2 separate regions of the Homo sapiens genome follow, and region 2 is linked to region 1. The links come from fine-mapping of genetic effects on gene expression. A gene starts in region 1. The other region holds a variant in brackets. All regions are shown on one strand. Distances are between the middles of the regions.

The links. PIP is the estimated chance that this variant, and not a neighbour inherited with it, causes the effect.
Region 2: its variant is fine-mapped to the expression of NR2C2 in whole blood (TOPMed, PIP above 0.99).

Annotation. Positions count from the first base shown.
Region 1 is chr3:14,943,680-14,954,729 of GRCh38, forward strand. NR2C2 (nuclear receptor subfamily 2 group C member 2) reads left to right here and starts at 3,904. Exons shown (of 14, transcript NM_001291694.2): 1 at 3,904-4,227. It overlaps FGD5-AS1 (FGD5 antisense RNA 1), which reads right to left and starts at 4,762. Exons shown (of 2, transcript NR_046251.1): 1 at 4,334-4,762; 2 at 1-2,475. RefSeq lists enhancers at 3,055-3,744, 4,433-5,120, 4,567-4,766, 5,121-5,808 and silencers at 3,527-3,956, 4,007-4,076, 4,097-4,516, 4,907-4,966.
Region 2 is chr3:14,999,261-15,010,310 of GRCh38, forward strand. NR2C2 (nuclear receptor subfamily 2 group C member 2) reads left to right here. Exons shown (of 14, transcript NM_001291694.2): 2 at 4,616-4,726. The coding sequence starts at 4,655. Among named protein-coding and RNA genes, the nearest start is that of FGD5-AS1, 56 kb to the left of the region's middle. The variant T/C (reference allele first, on the strand shown) is at 5,321.

The DNA of each region.
Region 1 (11,050 bases):
TTTCAAATTGATCAGTGGTTCAGGCCTGGAGTATGCATCAGAATTATCTGTGAAGCTTAGTGAAAGTGCTGATGCCAGAGCCCACCCAAAGCTTACTGCTTCAGAACCACTGGGGACCTGGCAGTTCTGATGTGCACGACTAGTCAAGAATCCTTTAAAGGCTGATAAAGCAATCTTGAAATCACTGTCAATGCAAAAGTGGATGTTCCTCATTAATAAGAACTCAAAAAATAAAGTACAGCTAGTATAAGACTTGTTTTTTGTGCCTATAAAACCCAAGTGTTAGCTACTTTCTAACTATAAAATTCTATCCAAAAAGACTTGCAGTCAAAACACCGAGCCAAAAAACAAAAAAGGCACCAAAGCAGTGCCGACTTCAATGTGCAAAGGCCTTTTACGTGCTGATATTGTAAGCAATCTGTGTGCATGTGTACATATGCATCTGTTTTCAGGGAAAGAAAAGCTGTTAAAGCCAATTAAGGTTATGAATTCTTGCTACTACTTTAATATTAAACCTTTAAGTGAAAATTTATTGAACACTATTACAAATGTGGCAAACTGACATAGCTGGTTTACTGCACAAACTTTAATGTCAAAGGGATTAGATCAGAGCTCCAGTCTCACTTACTGGGCCTATAACATTGTGCAGGGCACTTATCTCACCTCAGGAAAATGGAAGTAACTGCTTCATTTTACAGAGGTATTAAATGAAAGAAATGAGAAAACTATAAACCAACATTGAAGCCTGAATTATTGCTTAGTATTTAAAGTCTAGTACAATTGCAATGTTTTTAATAAAAAAACTCATTGATAGGTGTATTTTTACAGTGTATCTAAAAGCAGCATTTAACATTAAAAACTTAGTATTTAAAAGAGTACACAACCAGGCAGGGTGTGGTGGCTCACGCCTGTAATCCTAACACTTTGGGAGGCCAAGATGGGAGGATCACTTGAGGCCAGGAGTTCGAGACCAGCCTGGTCAACACAGCGAGACCCCAACTTTTTTTTTTTTTGAGACAGTTTCGCTCATCGCCCAGGCTGGAGTGCAATGGTGTGATCTCGGCTCACTGCAACCTCTGCCTCCCGAGTTCAAATGATTCTCCTGTCGCAGCCTCATGAAGTAGCTGGAATTAGATGCCCGCCACCCCGCCTAGCTAATTTTTTTGTATTTTTAGTAGAGATGGGGTTTTACCATGTTAGTCAGGCTGGTCTTGAACTCCTGACCTCAGGTGATCCACCCACCTCACCTTCCCAAAATGCTGGGATTACAGGCATGAGCCACCATGCCCGGCCAATGCCATCTATTAAAAAAACAAAGAAAAAGAGTACACAACCACAAAGCACTGGGCCAAATGCATTGTTTCCATGTTTGCAAGGATTTACCATAGAAATATTAGGTTGATGCAAAAATTAAATTTCCAGACTGCGAATTTTAAATCATTGTAACTACGCTAAAACATATTCTATTAATCAAAACAGGAACCATTACAATCAACACATTTTTGCCAATGAGAAATGTTTGTTTATTCCTGTAGCATAAAAATCCGTGCTTCAGGATTTGACGAACTCTTGGAAAGCATTTTCTGCACCATGCTGAAGTGTTTTCCCTGCAAAAAGTTGTCAAGATGCTAGCAGAAGTGGTAGTCAGTTGGCGAAAGGTCAGGTGAATATGGTGGATGAGGCAAAACTTTGTAGCCCAATTCCTTCAACTTTTGAAGCACTGGTTGTGCGACACGCAGTCAGGTGTTGTCGTGGAGAAGAATTGGGCCCTTTCTGTTGACCAATGCAGGCAGCAGGTATTGCAGTTTTCGGTGCATCTTACCAATTTGCTGAGCATACTTCTCAGATGTAATGGTTTCACCAGGATTCAGAAAACTGTAGTGGATCAGATGGGCAGCAGACCACCGAACAGTGACCATGACCTTTTTTTTGGTGCAAGTTTGGCTTTGGGAACTGCTTTGGAGCTGCCTCTTGGTCCAACCACTGAGCTGGTTGTTGTATAAAATTCACTTTTCATTACATGTCACAATCCGATTGAGAAATGGTTTGTTGTTGCGTAGCATAAAAGAAGACTACACTTCAAAACGATAGTTTTGATTTCCGCTCAGCTCATGAGGCACCCACTTATCAAGCTTTTTCACCTTTCCAATTTGCTTCGAATGCTGAACGACCCTAATGACCGTAGAATAGTCAACGCTGAGTTCTTCTGTAATTTTTCATGTAGTTCAATGATTGCTCTCAATTGGTCGTTGTCAACTTCCCATGGCCCATATCACGTTCCTCATCTTCAAGGCTCTCTTCCTTGCAAAACTTCTTAAGCCACCACTGCACTGTATGTTTGTTAGCAGTTCCTGGGCCAAATGTGTTACTGATGTTTTGAGTTGTCTTCGCTGCTTTATGAACCATTTTGAACTCGAATAAGAAAACTGCTCCAAATTTGCTTTTTATCTAACATCATTAGACAAAAAGCATATTCTAAAATAAACAGCAATAAGTCATTAGCAAAAAAATAAAGTGAGAAATGTGCATTAAAATGATCCACATTTATTTAAGAATGTATTCCAATATCAAACAGCAAATTTCAAAAATGCAAAAACGCAATTGCTTTTGCCTCTCAGGTACATCACTTGACCTTTCTAGTTCTCACCCACTTCACCCCTAAAATCGGAAAATCTTTCTGCAAGAAAAAAATTTGACCACATTCCCTTAAGGCCTCTTCCAATTTCAAGAGCTGTGCTTTACCATGACAAAACGAACCTAGCTCTTTTCCCAATTTTGCAACGTCAGAAAAAGGAGGAAGGGGAAATAGCTGTGTTTAAAACATTTTTTACCAAATAGAAATATTATAAGATTATGGAAAAAAAAATACTAAATGTTGGAGTCATCCTGATAAAAACCCAAATGGATACTGTGTGGGAAAAAAAGTTAACCCATCCATTCTGGAGTCAATATTTATTCTTAATAAGCAAGAAAACTGAAGAAAAAAAATCAGTATAAGATCTACAGCCTGTAGCCTAAACACTTCAGGGCATTTAGGATAAATAAGCGCCTGCACCTTCCCAGGCAAGTCAAAACCACGACATAAAACAGAGAAATATGTAAGGAAAACCTACAGCCCAAGAGTTTAAGAGCAAGACAGGCCAATTTCTTCAAATAAATTTAAGCAATGCTGCTAAAAGCTGCTTTACACATCCCTATTACCATGTACTACTTCCAAATTTCGAGGAGGAGGGGCATGGAATTACACAAGATCTGGATCGTATGTTTACTAAGAAACCAAAAATTATAGGTTCTGGGGCGTTTCAACATTTCACCTGAGATGGCCAGAACGGGCGCATCTTTAGACCTTTAAAACCTAAATTAAAAACTATCAGTACCGAGGAAGGGCCGAAGAGCTCAATACCCACCCAATACAACCCCCACTTCCGACCTACAGACGCTCTGCTGAGCGGCTGGGAGAATCCGTCGCGCCAGTCAGGGCCCGGCTTCTTCCAACAACAGACACTTTGCGAGCCTTCCAGAAGCCTTGGCTAAGCGAGAAGGCAGGGTGGAGGCCGCCACTGCGAGGACGGTCCCCACCCAGCTGCGAGGAGCTCGCGGTTCCCCAGAGGGGCGGGCCTGCGTCCGGGTAACCGTGCGCGACGTCCACGAGTTTTTAGGACGACCAGCCCTTCAGCCTCTAGGCCCCGACGCCTGCGCCATTTAAGCCACATATCCGCCCGCCCGGCCGCGGCCAAGGCCGGCGGCAGCTACGTAGCCGCCGCCGCCCGGGGCCCCACAGCCCACGGGCCGGATGGACCGAGCGCCGGCTGCGGCGTTCCGGTGCGCGCGCGCGCCTCAGCCAATCGCGTTCTCGCCCGCCCCCCGCCGCGGCGGCGAGGCTGGCGCTGGGAAGAGGAAGAAGAACATTCGCCCTCCTCCTACCAGCGCGCGGGCGGCGGCGGCGGCGGCACCGGGGTCACGAACTCTGACCTTTCACTGACAAAAACAATAACAAACCCCCCCTTCTCCGCGACCCCGGCGGCGCCCCCGGGCCCGTCCCCGCCACCCCGCTCCCACCTCGGCGTCTCGTCTCTCGCCCGCTGCCCCGCGAGCCCGCGGCCCCCGGGCTCCCGCCATCCGCCGACACCGGGAGCCCGGGCTCCCCGCGCCCTGCCCTCCGCGCCGGGGGCCGCCCGCCGCAGACACGGGACCCGCTTCGAGGCCGCTTTGGCGCCAAATCCTGAGGTAAAATTGAAAGAGGGTCGGGCGGGCTCGGGCCGGCGGCGGAGGGGGCGGGCCTGGCGCGCGGACATGGAGGCGCCGCGGCGGCGGCTGAACCCGACCCTTTTACCTTTGCCACGGGGTGGCGGCGGCGGCGCCCGGCGCTTTGCATAGTGGGCCGGGCCGCTCCCCTCCCCTCCCCGCCCGCGGCCGGGCGAAGCGAGCGGGTTCCCCCTGACCGGCCCGGCCGGCGCAAGGGTGGGGGTGGAGGGGGAATGGCCGCGGCCCCGCCTTATAGTTGGCCCTCCGCCAGCGCCGCCATTTTGTTCTCGACGGAGATGGCTCCGGCTGGGCGGGCTCCCTTCCTCCTTATCCTCCTCCTCCTCCCGCCTGCAGTCCCTTCTTCCTTCTCTGCCGGGATTTTCACCCCTCCGCTTCTAGTCCGCCTTTGGCGGCCGTCGCAGCCCAACCGCCGTTTTTTCTGAAGGGGAGGGTAAAAGAAAAGGAGGAAGGCGGGTGCGAGGCGCGACCTCGTGAGCGACGGATGGGCTGGCTAATTGGCGCCCAGATAGGAGGGCCGGGGCCTGTGGCACCGCCCCCCTAAGCTTTGCTGATTGGCTGAGGCGGAAGAGGGTGGTCCTTATGGGGCGCGGGAGCCCTGGCGGGGCGGGAGTAGAGGCCGGGGCGAAGAGTGGGGCCGGGTCGGCGGGGGCGGGGCCGGGGGCGGGGCGCGAGGGGCGCGGCCGGGTGGAGAGGCCGGCGCCTGGTCTTGGGTCAGCAGGTGGGCTGCTTCCCTCCGCCTGGAACGCGTCTCGAATGAGTACTGAGGAACAATAGTAATAAAGGTGATGAAGCATTTCGAGTCCACGATGCGCTCTCGTGGGAAGAGGTTTTCGGAACCAGGACACTTTTCAGGGCTCCTGCTCGTTATTTCGCAGCGGCCTTGGCGAATCCCCTAATGAGGCTCAATTTTATCGACTGTAAATGGGGGGCATGCGCATTCTTGCCAGGCCGGACCTCCCTTCTGAGCATTGTTTGTGGGGCTCTACTCAGAAAATGGAGGCAACGCTACTTTGCGAGCTTCAGAGTCACTTGAAAATGGTGTTATTGTTAAAAATGGGATTACAGCCACCAGGAGAGGCAAGCGTTAAGGGTATTTGGGGTTTGAGAGAGCACAATTCGGGAGTGATTCTCTTCTCATTCGTTCGCTGAATACATGTTGACTTAGTTTTTTAGGCACTGGGGACACATCTGGAGAACCAGCTGTACAAGACCCCTGCCCTCACTAGAGTTGGGGGCTGGGGGGTGAATAGACAAATAATTCCAGAGAGTCATAAGTTCTGTGAAAGAAAAGAAGCCAAATGACCTGCTGAAGAAGACCTGAGGCGTTAATTTAGATGGAATGGTCAGGGTGGCCTCTCTGAGTAAGTGATGTTTGAACAGAGGAACCCAAGGGAGGAATGGCATTCCAGACAGGACATCCCGTGTAACGGCCCTGGAGGAAGAGCATTTGATGTGATCGAGAACTGGCTGCTTGTGGCTGGAGAGTTGGTTGGAACTAGTAATTGTCCATTATCCCACTTTGTTTCCAAGCCAAAGGCTGTGAAATATAGCAACGGTAGTGAGGAACAAATCTTCAATGTAATAAGAAAGTCGAGGAAAATACAGCCTTCATATGAATTACTGATGAATACATGACTTGGGAGGAGGGCCTCAGAAACTCACTTTACTTCCAGATTCAAATCCTTCGTCAGCCTCTTATATACATTTTCAGTTCATCAAGTATTTCCTGAGTGCTACGAATACTCCAGGCACTATGTGCTAGGCTGGGAATACAAAAAAGTAAGACACTGGTCCTCAAACATGTGAATATGATTTATTTATTTATTTATTTATTTTTTGAGACCAAGGTCTCACTCTGTCGCCCAGGCTGGAGTTGAATATAATTCTCTGTGTGTGAGTTCTCTCTTTCTCTCTCTCGAGATAGAGATATTTATACACATACATACACAGACATAAAATGTTTTAGTGTTGTGGTTAGCAACTCCCCAACTTTTACTAGCAGTGTGATTTTGTGTAAGCTACCTTTCCTAGCCTCACTGTCCTCATCTGGACAATAATAGAGCCTTCCTTCCTGAACTGAAGATTAGATGAGTTAATGTAAATAATAGAGCTTAGAAAAGTGCCTGACATGTAGCAAATACTGTGTAAATAGAGTTATTGTTGTCATTATGAACTACTGGTATAGACATTGGACTAATTAAGTGATATAAATAATGAAATTTTTATGCAGTGTGGTGTAGGGGCAAAAACAATAGATTCGAACACCGAGATTCTAGTTTTGGCTCTGTGCTTGCAGCTAGTTACATGGCATCCAGGACAAAAGTTTGGAAAACAAAATAATGGAACTAAATAGTACTAACCAAAGTATAGGGTGCTTTATGATTTACAGAACTCTCTTACAGGCAGTATGTTGTTCAGGCGCCACTAGAACCCACGTAATGGCAGAGGCTTCCTGTTCCATGTTTAAAAACCTTTCCAAGGCTTTTCATTATTTTCTTATCTGTGGTACCCCTAGCTTCCTGTGCTCTAGACACACTGGCCTACCTTCAACTTCCTTGACCAGTGTAGCTTACAGTGTAAGCTTACCCCCCACCCCCACCCTACCTCAGATATTGGCTCAAGCATCACTTCTTCAGGGAAGTCCTAATTCCCATTGCCAGTCTAAATCAGATTCTTTTTATTCTTTTCTTTATAATCTTTATCTCACTTTATAATTACACACTCTATTATGTGATTATTTGATTAATGTCTGTCCTTACCACACTGTAAGCTGTGAGAGCAGGAATACATTTTGTTTACCATTACTTATCCAGCACTTAGAAGAGTGCCTGGCACTATTTGTTGAATGAATTGTTGATAATTTATGATGTCACTGATAACTAAGTTGCTGTACATTGATGGATACCTTTTGTGTGAGCCTCTTTGGCAATTCAGATAGCACTGCCAGCAATAATAAGCCTGTTACGGTATTTGGTTGAATTTAGCAAGTGATTTCTGACAGATATGCCACTTTCTGGAGACATAAATATGGATAAAATGACCCATTTCAATAGTTTTTCCCACTCATTTTTTTATGATTGAATTACAAGTTTAAGTGCATGAAAGTTAATAAGTTCATATGTGAAGAAATAAATAGCCCAAACATAACTTATGTTATTTACTTTAGCTGAAGAAACGAAGCACTAAGCTACCATGATTTTCTTGAAATCAAATATTCTGATTTTTGTCTCACCATCACAGGGGATTGGAGAGAAGGAACAAGCCTCCAGTGGGTTCACAGGGAATTGGGAGTTGAAAGTCTCTGTAGCCATTAATTCGGGATATTTATCTTTCTAAAGATAAATTGATTCATTTAATGAAATTATTGAAAATCACCTTTTAATTGCTTTACCAAGGTTAAAAGCAAATTTTGTTAAGTATACATCAAGTTTCTACTCGAAAGTGTGGTAAATAAAACATTTGTATTAACTTATTTTATATTGTAAAACTTTTAAAATAAGATATTGTTATGGTATTTTAAAAATAATAATAGTTTAACTGTTTATTTTTGGGTTTTTTTTTCTGTCTTGCTCAAAGATTTTTGGTATCACTTGTTCAATTCCTTAAGCTAATTACTCAGGGTAACCAAAGAACTGCTAGTTTAGTAAAACAGCTATATGTTGTCTTACATCGTTAAGTTATTTATTGCTTTCAGTAGTTGTATTCACAGTGACTTTTAAGTTTTGTTTCGTGATCATTCTTTTATAGAAAATCCCTGTGCGTAACAACCTCCTCACTTTATGAGGATGGCTGGAAGTTTTTTTTGTGTGTTTTTTTTTGTTTTTGGGAGTCTCGCTCTGTCACCCAGGCTGGAGTGCAGTGGTGCGATCTCGGCTCACTGCAAGCTCTGCCTCCTGGGTTCACGCCATTCTTCTGCCTCCGCCTCCCCAGTGGCTGGGACTACAGGTGCCCGCCACCACGCCTGGCTAATTTTTGGATTTTTAGTAGAGACGGTGTTTCACCATGTTAGCCAGGATGGTCTCAAACTCCTGACCTCGTGATCCGCCTGCCTCGGCCTCCCAAAGTGCTGGGATTACAGGTGTGAGCCACTGCGCCCAGCAACTGGGAAGTTTTTAGCATCTGTCTCCAAGGAGTAACATGGCAAGGGCAGTGCAGTGACAGAGCTTGGGCTATGAAGGCAGAAAGGCCTGGCTTCAGAACCTGGAGTTGGTAGCCTCTCTGAGGCTTATAATTCCCCATTTGTCAAACAGGGAGGTGGGAGCCAGCATTGAGATTGGGGCCAGGGATAGCGGATACTTGTTGTCTGAATGACTTTGAGAACAAGGGAGGTGAGTCTTTGTGGAGCAGCCCTGTCTTCAGCCGTGGCACTGAGCCACTGGTCTGTGTCTAGCTGCCTGAGTGTCTCCACATATCGAGGGCCCTCCGTTGGGATTTTTATTGTTGAGTTCTCTTACCTATAAGCCATACGCTCCTTTAGTCCCAAACCATCTCCTGTACAAGTATCATCTTAAAAAATACCACACGGGGGGAGTCCGTGAAGGAATCTTAGAATCTCAGAATTGGAAGTGGTCTAGACCCCAAGTCCAGCCTTGATGTAAGGATCCCCTGCTAGATTTTCGTTTACCTCTTTTTACTTTATTGCTAATTATGAGGGCCTTAAATGATGCCTTTTTTCTTCCCTGTGTGATCATCATCTTTAACTTAATGGATACATTTGTGCTCCTGTTACACATTGTAAAAGATATGTTCTTCCTTATTCGTTGGAGGTTTGCTTGCCTTCAACTTAATATGCCAGAGGCTGAGATTCTCTGTCATTCTCTCCCATCCTGCCACTCTTTCCCCATATCCCACTATTGCTACCCGAGGTAGCAGTCCTACTCCCCTTGCTCACTTCAGGTCCTGAGTGCTAGAGAGTAAAGCAGCAGGAGCTCTATACCAAAAGGAAGAACTGCCCAAGAACAACAGCTCAACTAGCACAGCTCAACAATGATGAGGAGTGGGAATGACTAGAGGGATGAAAGCCAGATCAGGGCATTGGCGTAGGCATTTGTTAAAGGTACAATAAATGCAGATGCAGACCCCTGGTACCTGGAAGTCTTAGAATAGAAGGATGGGAGGTGAATTGTTAAGGACAGAAAGGGAATAGGCTAGCTCAGACACTTAACTGTTTTTTCTGTGTTACCCTTGGACTCCAGTTGGCCTGTAATGATGAAAGTCAGCCTCAGAGGCAAGTGTGATTTTTTAGGGGCAATAAAAAGTACCTCCTTCACTGTAATAAGAGGCCTGAAGTCCTTTAATAGGAGGTGAAACTTTCTATTCCATAATTATTAACAGTTACCTCAAAGATTCTAATCCCTGAAATGTTAACATGTAGATGGAGAGGAATTTCATTCCAAGTGCCCAAGTGTAAAAGAATATTTCCCCCCTGTTTGCGTTAGTGAGAGGTGTGAGAAAAGGTCTTGGGGCCTGGAAAATGGGGTGACTGCTGCTGAAAAGTGAAGAGAAATGAGAGGCTGGTAGGGCTAGACTCAAGCCTGAAGGCTTCCTGGTTTTACAGGGAGCTGCTTTATTTACCTTTGTTGTTCATATGTTGATAAAAGCTATGCAGGGGAAAAAGTTTCCTACCTGACTGCCCACCCATGTTCCTTAAAAAGAAAGATTCACGTATGGCCAGGCGTGGTGGCTCACCCCTGTAATCCCAGCACTTTGGGAGGCCAAGGCAGGCGGATCATGAGGTCAGGAGTTCAAGACCAGCCTGGCCAACATAGTGAAACCCCATCTCTACTAACAATACAAAAAATTAGCTGGGCGTGGTGGCAGGCGCCTGTAATCCCAGCTACTCGGGAGGCTGAGGCAGGAGAATCACTTGAACCCGGGAGGTGGAGGCTGCAGTGAACCAAGATCACGCCACTGCACTCCAGCCTGGGCGACAGTGCGAGACTTCATCTCAAAAAAAAAAAAAAAAACAACTGAGGCTGGATGGCTCTTGAGAAGTTACACAATACTAGCGGGCTTCATGCTGCATTTCCCCCAGTGTATTTGTTGTATAGTGAATCTGATTAGGTATTATTTCTAGAACATTTTGGATATGTCATTTGTACCACACTCGTTCTTGTCCCCTGTCCCACCACTATGGTGTCTGTAATGATGCATCTTTTTATTAGGTTGATAAGATGACTAACCCTGGAATTGAAAAATCATTTTTTAATTGATTGCTTTACCAAGACTAAAAGCAGATGTCACAAAGTATATATCAGCTTTTAACTGGAAAGGCTAATAATTAGACTGTGTTGTTGACTTATTTAATATAATACAGATTTTTAAAAATAAAATAAATTTATAATATGTCTTTTCTAAAGAAATAAACAATGTACTTTCTCGAGAATAAAAATTAAAAATAGATAAAAGTAAAACAGTTAATTTTTAAAAATAGTAAAATTTTCAAACGAAGAAAAGAAAGCAGTACATCAAAAGGCATGTGTGAAAATGTTCATAGGAGCACTAATCATAAGGACTCCAAACTAGAAACAATCTAAGTGTTCATCAGCTATAGAATGGAGAAATAAATTGGGCATAGTCGTACATTAGAATACTGTACGACAGTGAAAATGGATTCACTTCTCATGGTTATTACAAAAATAATGTTGGGCAAAAGAAGCCAGACATACCAAAAAGTGTATTATAAACAGTGCAATAATATTATAAAGTAATGCCAGTAGTATAAAAGTCAGGAGAGGGAAGAGAAGTTATTGACTATGGGAAGGGGTGTGAGAGGGACTTTTGG
Region 2 (11,050 bases), 56 kb after region 1:
AGCCGAGATCGCACCATTGCACTCCAGCCTGGGCAACAAGAGTGAAACTCCGTCTCAAAAACAAACAAAAAAAATTTAAATTGGCCCGGCATGGTAGCACACACCTGTGATCCTAGCTGCTCAGGAAGCTGAGGTTGGGAGGATTGCTTGGGCCCAGGAGGATGAGGCTGCAGTGAACCATAATTGTGCTACTGCGCTCTAGCACAGGCAACAGAGTAAGAGATCTTGTCCCCCCCAAAAAAAAAGTTTCTAGTTTTAATGATTATTTTCTAATTTTTCTTGTGCTATTTTTGCTTTTGGTGTCATCTAAGAAACAATCACCTAATTCAAGTTCACGAAGATTTACACCTGTGTTTTCTGAGAGTTTTATAGTTTTAACTCTTACATTTAGATCTTTGATCCATTTTGATTTTTTTTTTTTGTAATAGTGCAAGGTAGGTGTCCAGATTTGTTCCCCTGCATTTGATTTCCACTTGTCCCATCACCATTTGTCGAAGACTGTTCTTTGCCTATTGAATTATCGTGGCACCTTTATCAAATTTGAACATATAGGTGAGGGTTTATTTCTGCATTCTCTGTTATATTCCATTGGTCTGTATGTCTTGTCTTTATGCCGGTACTGCAATTTTTTTAAGTTACAAATTGAGTTTATATTGCATATATTTACAGTACAAAGTGATGTTATGATCCGTGACTACAATGTGTAAAAATTAAATCAAGCTCATTAACATATCCATCACCTTAAATACTTATTTTTGCCATGAGAACATTTGAAATTTACTCTTAGCAATTTTGAAATGTACAATAGGCTATTATTAACTGTATTCGCCATGCTGTGCAATAGGTCTAAAAAAAAAGAAAAGTATTCCTCCTAAGATTTTGTACCTTTTGACCTGACTTTCATCTCCCCATTCCCCCTGCCCCTCAGCCTCTGTTAACTACCATTTTACTCTGGTTTTATGAGTTTGATTCTTTTAGATTCCACATTTAAGTAAGAACATGTGGTATTTGTCTTTCTGTGCCTGGCTTATTTCACTTACCATAATGTTCTCCAGTTCCATCCGTGTCATCAGAAATGACAGAATTTCCTTCTTTTTAAAGGCTGAATAGTATTCCATTGTGTGTATATACCACATTTTCTTTATTCATTCATCTATTGATGGACTTGTTGGTTGATTATGTAACTTGGCTATTGCAAACAGTGCTGCAGAGAACATGGGAGTGCAGACATCTCTTCAACAAACTGATTTCAAATCTTTTTGGGTAAACACCCAGAAGTGTGATTGCTGGATTCCACACAGTTTTAATTACCGTAGCTTTGTAAATAAGTTTTGAAATAAGGAAGTGTGAGACCTCCAACTTTGTTCTTTTTCAAGATTGTTTTGGATACTCTGGGTCCCATGCATTCCCATATGAATTTTAGGATCATTTTGTCAATTTATGCAAAAAAGCACCTGAAATTTTGATAGGGATTACATTGAATCTTTAGATCAATTTGGGGAATATCACCATCTTAACAATATTAAGTCACAAATGTCTTTCTATTTATTTAGGTTTTTTTTTTTTTTTTTTTTGACGGAGTCTTGCTCTGTTGCCAAGGCTGGAATGCAGTGGCACAATGTCGGCTCACTGCAAGCTCTGCCTCCCGGATTCACACCATTCTCCTGCCTCAGCCTCCTGAGTAGCTGGGACTACAGGCACCCGTCACCACGCCCGGCTAATTTTTTGTATTTTTAGTAGAGACAGGGTTTCACTGTGTTAGCCAGGGTGGTCTCAATCTCCTGACCTTGTGATGCACCTGCCTCGGCCTCCCAAAGTGCTGGGATTACAGGCGTGAGCCACCGTGCCCAGCCTATTTAGGTGTTTTAAATTTCTCATAGCAATATCTTATAGTTTTCAGTATTCAAATCTTGCATTTCTTTTGTTAAATTTATTTTATTTCTAAATATATTATCCTTTTTGATGCATGGTCAGTGGGATTGCTTCCTTAATTTCATTTTCAGATTGCTCATTGCTAATATATAAAAATACAATTGATTATTGTGTTTTTGTTTTGGGTTTTTTTTTTTTTTTTTTTTGGTTTTTTTTTTGGAGACAGAGTTTCACTCATGTCGCTCAGGCTGGAATGCAATGGCGTGATCTTGGCTCACTGCAACCTCCGCCTCCTGGGTTCAAGCAATTCTCCTGTCTCAGCCTCCTGAGTAGCTGGGATTACAGGCCCCGCCATCATACCCGGCTTATTTTTGTGTTTTTTAGTAGAGATGGGGTTTCACCATGTTGGCCAGGCTGGTCCTGAACTCCTGACCTCAGGTAATCCGCCTGCCTTGGCCTCCCAAAGTGCTGGGATTACAGGTGTGAGCCACTGTGCCTGGCCTTGTTTTTTGTTTTTGAAAGTCTTGCCCAGGCTGTGTAGTGACACAATCATGGCTCACTGCAACCTAGAACAACTGGGCTCAAGCAATCCTCCCACCTTAACCTACTGAGTACCCGGGACTTACAGGCACGTACCACCACACACACCTGATTTTTTGATTTTTTTGTAGAGATGGGTCTTGCTTTGTTGTCCGGACTGGTCTTAAACTCCTGACCTCAAGTGATCCTCCTACCTCGGTCTCCCAAAGTGCCAAGGTTACAGGCTTGAGCCACTGCACCTGGCCAGTTTTTGTGTTTTGATCTTATATCCTGCAACCCTGAAACTCGTCTACTTGCTCTGATGGGTTTTTTGTGGATTCTGTGGGATTTTTTTCTATATGAGATCATGTTATTTGCAAACAGAGATAGTTTTCTTCCTTTCTATTCTGAATGTTTTTATTCTTTTTCTTTCCTAATTGCCCTGGCTAGAACCCCTAGTGCAATGTTGAGGTAGAGAGAATGGACATCCTCATCTTATTCTTAACCTTAGAAGGAAAGCTTTTAGTCTTTTACCGCTAAGTATACTGTATAGCTGTGAGTATTTTATAGAGACCCTTTATCAGATTGAGAACTTTCCTTTTATATCTCGTTTATTGAGTGTTTTTTTCATGAAATGTTGTTAGATTTTGTCAAATGCTTTTTCGCCATCAATTGAAATAATTATGTGGCTTCTGTCCTTTATTCCTTTAATGCAATGTATAGAACTGTTTGATTTTCATATTTGAACAAGCTTGCTTTCCTGGGATGAACCCCAGTTATTCGTGGTGTATAATCCTTTATATACCACTGGATTTGGTTTGCTAGAGTTTTGTAGAGGATTGTTTGTGTTTCTATTCATAAGAGATATTGGTCTGTAGTTTTCTTTTCCTGTGATGTCTTTGGTTTCAGTATCAGGTAATATTGGCCTCACAGAATTGGGAAGTGTTTTCTTCTAATTTTAGGAAGAGTTTTTTGTGAAGTGTTCACAATATACTTTTTTTTTTTTTTTTTTTTTTTTTTTTTTGAGACAAAGTTTCACTCTTGTTGCCCAGGGTGGAGTACAATAGCATGATCTTGGCTCACTGCAACCTCCGCCTCCCGGGTTCAAGCGATTCTCCTGCCTCAGCCTCCCTAGTAGCTGGGATTACAGGCACGGGCCACCATGCCTGGCTAATTTTGTATTTTTAGTAGAGACAGGGTTTTACCATGTTGGTCAGGCTTGTCTCTAACTCCTGACCTCAAGTGATCCACCCACCTCGGCCTCCCAAAGTGCTGGGATTACAGGCGTGAGCTACCGCCGCCGACCCACAATACACTTTTTTTTTTTTCTGTCACCCAGGCTGGAGTGCAGTGGCACAATCTCCGCTTACTGCAGCCTCCACCTCCCTGGTTCAAGCGATTCTCCTGCCTCAGCCACACGAGTAGCTGGGATTACAGGTGCGCACCATCGTGCCTGGCTAATTTTTTTTTTTTTTTTTAATGTAGAGATGGAGTTTTACCATTTTGGCCAGCTGGTCTCGAACTCCTGACCTCAAGTGATCTGCCCACCTTGGCCTCCCGAATGCTGGGATTATAGGTGTGAGCCAGCACACCCAGCCACAATACACTTTCTATCAAGAAAAAATATATCTGCCTGCTTCAGATACCCAGGTGACCACTCAGCACCTTGTACCTTGCCTTTGGGATAGGTATTGACTAAATTTCAGACCCTGTGGTCCTGACAGGCTTTTCCCAGCTCCATCCCATTGGGGCTGAGAAATTACCAGGACGCTTTTATAAGTACTAATCCCAGTAGGTTTCAGTGTAATGTTGGTTTTGTTTGTCATCCCCTGCTGTGTTGTGAGAGCCTTTCTCGGGAAACCATATTAAAGGAATGTTTTACAGGTGGCTTTGGAGACAGGGATAACATTCAAAGATCATCTTTAAAATGTTGTTTTGGTAGGTTTTTACTTTATTAAAGTGTGCAGAGCACAACTGCAAATTCCTTTGGTTTCTTCTTACATTTTCAACATTTGAAACAGCTGTTTTAAGATTGTATTTTCCTGGGGGGCATCCTGTAGCAACATCTCATTGATTGCTTTGTCATCATCCTTCTGGGTCCATACCTCAGAACCATACAAGTTCATCACTCCAGGCCACAGTGAAAGCAAGAGGCGTGGTCTTCAGGCCACCTCTGGGCATCATTCTGAACCCCCTTGTGATCCAGCCCACTTCTCACCCACAGGTAACACGTACACAGACCTCTCGGCCGGAATCTCCAGGGATGACCAGCCCCTCCCCACGCATCCAGATAATCTCCACCGACTCTGCTGTAGCCTCACCTCAGCGCATTCAGGTACCTGCAACCTGCCAATGGCAACCCTGCCTTTCCAGAAGAACTCTTTCCAAAAACAAACCTTCCTAAGGGTTTCACTAAAGAGTTGTGCCTTTTGGGCATGAAATACAGTACAACTTCATCAATTCTTTAAAAAAAATAAAGAAAAAATGCTTACATTTATTTAACCAACTTACATTTAAAGCAAAAGCCTAAACTGTTGTTTCAAACCATTGAGATAAAGTACCATTTTATTACTTATTTGCTTCTAAATTGAGAGGCAGTATGTCTTAGTACTGTAATTAAGAGCAAGGGCCCCTACTTGAAGTCAAATCCAGTGCCCCACTTAGCTTTGTTGACCTTGGTCAATTAACTTTTTAATGCCTCACTTTCTTCATTTGGAAAATAGACATAATAGTAGTATTTGCCTCACGAAGTTATTATGAAGAATCAAAGGGATATTGCTTATAAAGTGCTTAGAATGGTACCTGGCACATAATAATGTTCAATATTTACTAATTATATAATAACTTATTACTAATATTGTTATTAACTAATCGATATTCACTTATGGGAAGTTGTCTTCCCTAGGGCTCTGAACCTGCCTCTGGCCCA[T/C]TGAGTGTTTTCACATCTTTGAACAAAGAGAAGGTAGGTGTATCAAGCTTGAAGGCAAAAAGCTGGGAGGAAGGGATAATATATTGATGACAAAGATTTATTGTTATCTCAACAAGCTGAATCAAAAAGCCAATTATAACGGTTGATTTCTCTGTTTTTCTTCTTGCAGTTTTATCAGTTTTTTTGGCTCACTTTGATGCTCTGTTGTTAGTTGCATATATGTTTTATATTGTTATGTCTTTTTGGAGAATTAACCCTTTCTTGATCTTAGCCAAAAGGTCGAGAAGCGATGGAGAATTAACCCCTTTCTTGCTTGCTTTCTTGGTTGCTTGCTTTCTTTTTATTTATTTATTTTTGAGACAGAGTCTTGCTATGTTGCCCAGGCTGGTCTTGAACTCCTGACCTCAAGTGATACTCCTGCCTCAGCTTCCCAAAGTGCTGGGATTACAGGCATGAGCCACCATGCCCAGCCACCCCTTTCTTATTATGTACCATTTCCCTTTATGTTTATTTTCCTTGTTCTGAAGTCTGCTTTGTCTGAAATTACTATAGTTTTCTTTTTATTAGTGTTAGTTGCTAGCATGGTATAACTTTCTCTATGTTTTGACATTTTTTCTTTTTTTTGAGACAGGGTCTTGCTCTGTCACCCAGGCTGGAGTGCAATGGCGTGAACACAGCTCACTGCAGCCTCTACCTCAGAGGCTCAAGCCATCCTCCCATCTACGCCTCCCAAGTAGCTGGGACTACAGGTGCATACCACCATGCCTGGATACACACACGCATAATGCTTTTTTTTTTTTTTTTTTTTTTTTTATAAATAGGGATGGGGTTTCACCATGTTGCCAAGGTGGGTCTCAAACTCCTGAGCTCAAGCAATCCACCTGCCTCAGCCTCCCAAAGTGCTGGGACTACAGGTGTGAGCCAGCGTGCGTGGCCAACTTTTTTTTTTTTTTTTTTTTAGGAGAATCTTGCTCTGTTGCCCAGGCTGGAGTGCATTTACTATTCACAGACAGGATCATAGGGCACTACAACCTCAAACTCCTGAGCCCAAGCTGTCCTTTTGCCTCAGCCTCCCAAGTAGTTGGGACTACAAATGTGCACCACTGTCAGCTTCTCCATCCCTTTATTTTGCATCTGTCTGTGTCTTTATTTATAAAATGGGTCTCCTGTAGGCAATATGTATTGGGGTCTTGATTTTTTCCCATTTTTTTCCTACTTCCTACATAATTTCATAAGGGTCTTGTTTTTTTACCCAGCTGACAATCTGTCTTTTCATTGGTGGATGTGGATCAATTCATATTTAAAGTGATTGTTGATATATTTGGATTAATATCCTCCATTTAGGCTGGGTACAGTGGCTCATACTTGTAATCCCAGCACTTAGGGAGGCTGAAGAAGGCTTATTACTTGAGCCCAGGAGTTCGAGACCAGCCTGGGCAACAAAGTGAGATTGTATCTCTACAAAAAAACTAAAAAATTAGCCAGACATGGTGATGCATTCCTGTAGTCCTAGCTACTTGGGAGGCTTTGGTGGGAGGATTGCTTGAGCCCAGGAGGTTGAGGCTGCAGTGAGCTGTGATCATGCCACTGCACTCCAGCCTGGGCCACAGAGAGACCCTGTCTCAAAAAAATAAAATAGTAATTCAGAACTATTCATATGAGCTAAAATTTATACTTAAGTAAAAGATTTATTTACCATTTTGCAAAGGTCAGGATTTATTTACCTTTTTGCAAACCTTTTTTAAAGCAGGTTCTTTTTACCCTTTTTATTTTTAGTCAATAATCTTTGCTATTATCTTTTGGTATGCTCTAATATACCCTGACCTATCTTATAAACTTTATATATATGCTATATGTAAATTCTATGTATACTATAGGAAATTGTGTATATGTAGGTATGTGAGTGGGCAGGTGGGTATGTGTGTGTATATAAATAGTATAGGAAATCTGAAGAGCTGGTTTTGGGTTGAGGGACAAACCCTTGAAGGGATTCTCATTGTACTCAGAAAGAAATCCAAACTCGCAGCAGGGCCGTTCCACCTCCCTCTCTAGGTTCCTGGGCCATGCTGGTTGTCTGTGGGCCTGATAGCAGTTCCCAAGAAACTGTTCCTCCCAGGGCTTTCCATATACCAGAACATTTCTCTTTGCTGGGAACACTAAACATTTATTTGGCTGCTGTCTCCTCAGCCTTGAATCTTTTTTTTTTTTTTTTTTAAAGGCATTTCGCTCTTGTCGCCCAGGCTGGAGTACAGTGGCACAGTGTTGGCTCACTGCAACTTCTGCCTCCCAGGTTCAAGCAATTCTTCTGCCTCAGCCTCCCAAATAGCTGGGATTACAGACATGCGCCACCACGCCAGGCTAATTTTGTATTTTCAGTAGAGACAGAGTTTCACCATGTTGGCCAGGCTGGTCTCGAACTCCTGACCTCAGCTGATCAGCCTGCCTCGGCCTCCCAAAGTGCTGGGATTACAGGCGCGAGCCACTGTGCCACCCAGCCCAAATCTCATCTTAAATGTCACCTTGTCACAGAGGTTTTCCCTGACCTCTCTTTTTTTTTTTTTTTTTGAGGCGGAGTCTCGCTCTGTCGCCCAGGCTGGAGTGTAGTGGCGCGATCTTGGCTCACTGCAACCTCCGCCTCCCGGGTTCATGCCATTCTCCTGCCTCAGCCTGCCGAGTAGCTGGGAATACAGGTGCTCGCCACCACACCTGGCTAAATTTTTATATTTTTAGTAGGGACGGGGTTTCACCATGTTAGACAGGATGGTCTCGGTCTCCTGACCTTATGATCCGCCTGCCTCGGCCTCCCAAAATTCTGGGATTACAGGCATGAGCCACCGTGCCCAGCCCCCTGACCTCTCTTTTTAAAGTTAAGTACTTTTGTTATTCAGGGTTACCCCAACCTGATCTTTTCCCTCATAACATGTACCATAAATTGAAATTGTTTACTGACTGGTTTGTTTCCTTGTGTATTGCCAGTCTCTTCCATTGAACTAAAAGTTTCATGAGGGCAGGAGCCATCTTCATATGCCACTGTCTAACACAGTGTCTGACAGAGTAGCCCCTCAGTAAATATTTTAGGAATGAATGAAAGAATGAGTAAGCCATGGTAAAAAGTCTTGACTTTTTCCTCAGGAGCGATTTGATAAGATGAAAGGGATAAGACAAGACTGAGTGAGGAAAGGAGTATGTGAGAGCTTAGAGGGAAGAAATACTTTACCAAGGTCCTGTCATGTTCTGGGCAGTGTACCAAACAGTTTCACACACATCGTATCATTTCACTTTCCTAGTCATCCTTTTTCATAGATATATAAATGGAGCTCAAGGGCTTATGTAACTGCTCCAAGTTGACACAGCTGGGAAGTAGAAGAGCAAGCATTCCTATTCATGTCTGTAGCTACCAAGCCCTTTCTCGGGTGTTTACAGTGAAAGAGGTGGCAAGGTGGATAGGGATAAACTGGAGAGGCTACCTCATCTAAAGAGGTAGCCAACCCACACCCGCTCCAGCCACCTGGCACCATGGGGAGAACTTGAGCCCAGGATGACCTGAGCTTCCAGTTTGTCAAGAGAACTATAAATTTGATTTTGATTATGGGAAATACTCAATTTTTAGATGTTAGCAAACAGTTTTTTTGTTTGTTTGTTTTTTTTTTTAAATTAGGGGGCTGAGTGCAGTGGCTCACACCTGTGATCCCAGCACTTTGGAGGCCGATGTAGGTGGATCGCTTGATCTCAGGAGTTCAAGACCAGCCTGGGCAACCTAGTGAGACGTCATCTCTATAAAAAATACAAAAATTAGCCAGGCGTGCTGGCACGAGCCTGTAGTCCCAGTTACTCAGGAGACTGAGATGGGAGGATCACTTGAGGCTGAGAGGTGGAGGTTGTAAAGAGCCAACATCGTGCTGCTGCACTCCAGCCTGGGTGACAGAATAAGACCTGGTCTCAAGAAAAAAAAAAAACAAAAACTTTGGGTACTCAAACAAAAGTTATCCAGTGGCTGGTTTTTGCCTGCAGGCCATTCATTGGCAGGCTCTTCTTTGCAACAGAGATGTTGAACTGGCTGGAACAGAGTGGGTAACATGGGGGAGAATGGTGGTGTATGAGATCATTCCAGGGTCCTTTGGGATTAGAACTAGAGAGGACCTTAGCTTAGTAAAGTCAGTTCTGCTATAATGTGATGTGTGTTCCTGAAAATTCCCACACTTTGCCAAATTGTGTGATGAAAACCACAGGACTGATTGGAAAAAATGAAATTAGTGACACTCAAAAACTTTGTCAGTAACGTATTAAAAAACAGATAGTGAATCTAATAAAACCTGCAAGTGGTTAAATACATAGTGACTATAATAAATATGGTACTTGGTCGGGCGCGGCGGCTAGTGCCTATAATCCCAGCACTTTGGGAGGCCGAGGTGGACGGATCACCTGAGGTTGGGAGTTTGAGACCAGCCTGACCAACATGGAGAAATCCCATCTCTACTAAAAATACAAAAAATTAGCGGGGCATGGTGACGCATACCTGTAATCCCAGCTACTCGGGAGGCTGAGGCAGGAGAATGACTTGAACCTGGGAGGCGGAGGTTGCAGTGAGCCAAGATCGTGCCATTGCACTCCAGCCTGGGCAACAAGAGCGAAACTCCGTCTCAAAAATAAATAAGTAAATACGGCACTTTACCTAGAAAAAGCCTTGTAGATTCTTTGTGGAGGTAGGTGTAGGGAGGATTGCGTCTCATGAGTTACTGTGAGTGGTGGACATGGGGTGACCTGAAATCACCAGATGGATTGAATGTGACTCATACCATGTGCACTGAGTATCCCTGCATGGATCACTTCACCTCAGTGTTTATTCATGGAAGAAACCATGCATAAACACAAAATTTGCATTATACTCAAATTATTTACTAACATATCAATCATGTTCAAACAAATTCATCTTTTCACAACAAGCATTATGGCAGCTCTGAGTGTATAGGTAGGCTATTGAGGGCCTTAAAAATCACAGAAAACAACACATATCTTCTTAACGTTACTTCATTCCCCCCAGTTTGTTATAGTTTACAGACAGGAATTTAAGAACTTTTGTTCCAAGTAAAGAAATAAAATTTGCCTCTTGTATTAGTTTCCCAGGGCTGTCACAATAAATTACCACAAACTTAGTGGCTTAAAACAATAGAAATTTATTTTCCCAACCTTCTGGTGGCCAGAAGTCTGAAATCAAGGTGTCAGCAGGGCCATGCTCTCTTAAGGTTCTAGGAGAGTGTCCTTCCTTGCCTCTTCCTACCTTCTGGTGGGTGCCAGCAGTCCTTGGCATTCCTCGCTTGCTTGCAGCTGCATCACTCCAATCTCTGCCTCCATTGCCACATGGTCTTCTTATAAGGACACCAGTCATTGAATTAGGGCCCACCCTAATGCAGTATTACCTCATCTTATCCTAATTACATTTGCAAAGGCCCTACTTCCAAGTAAGGTACATTAATAGATACTGGGAATTATGGCTGGAATGTATCTTTTCAGGGGGTACAGTTCTATGCACAATACCTCTCCTCCACAGCCGACTTAAATTTTAATGAGCTTGGATATATCCTTGCAATTTGATGTGTCCTCTAGGTCATTAAATAGGAATCTATCTGTGTTTGTTAACAAGGTCTTGCCTAATGGTCACCCTTGTGTTCCAATAGGGTATTTGGGAGATTTTTTTTTCTGCCTGCATTTTTAGTTTTTTCATGGGCGTGA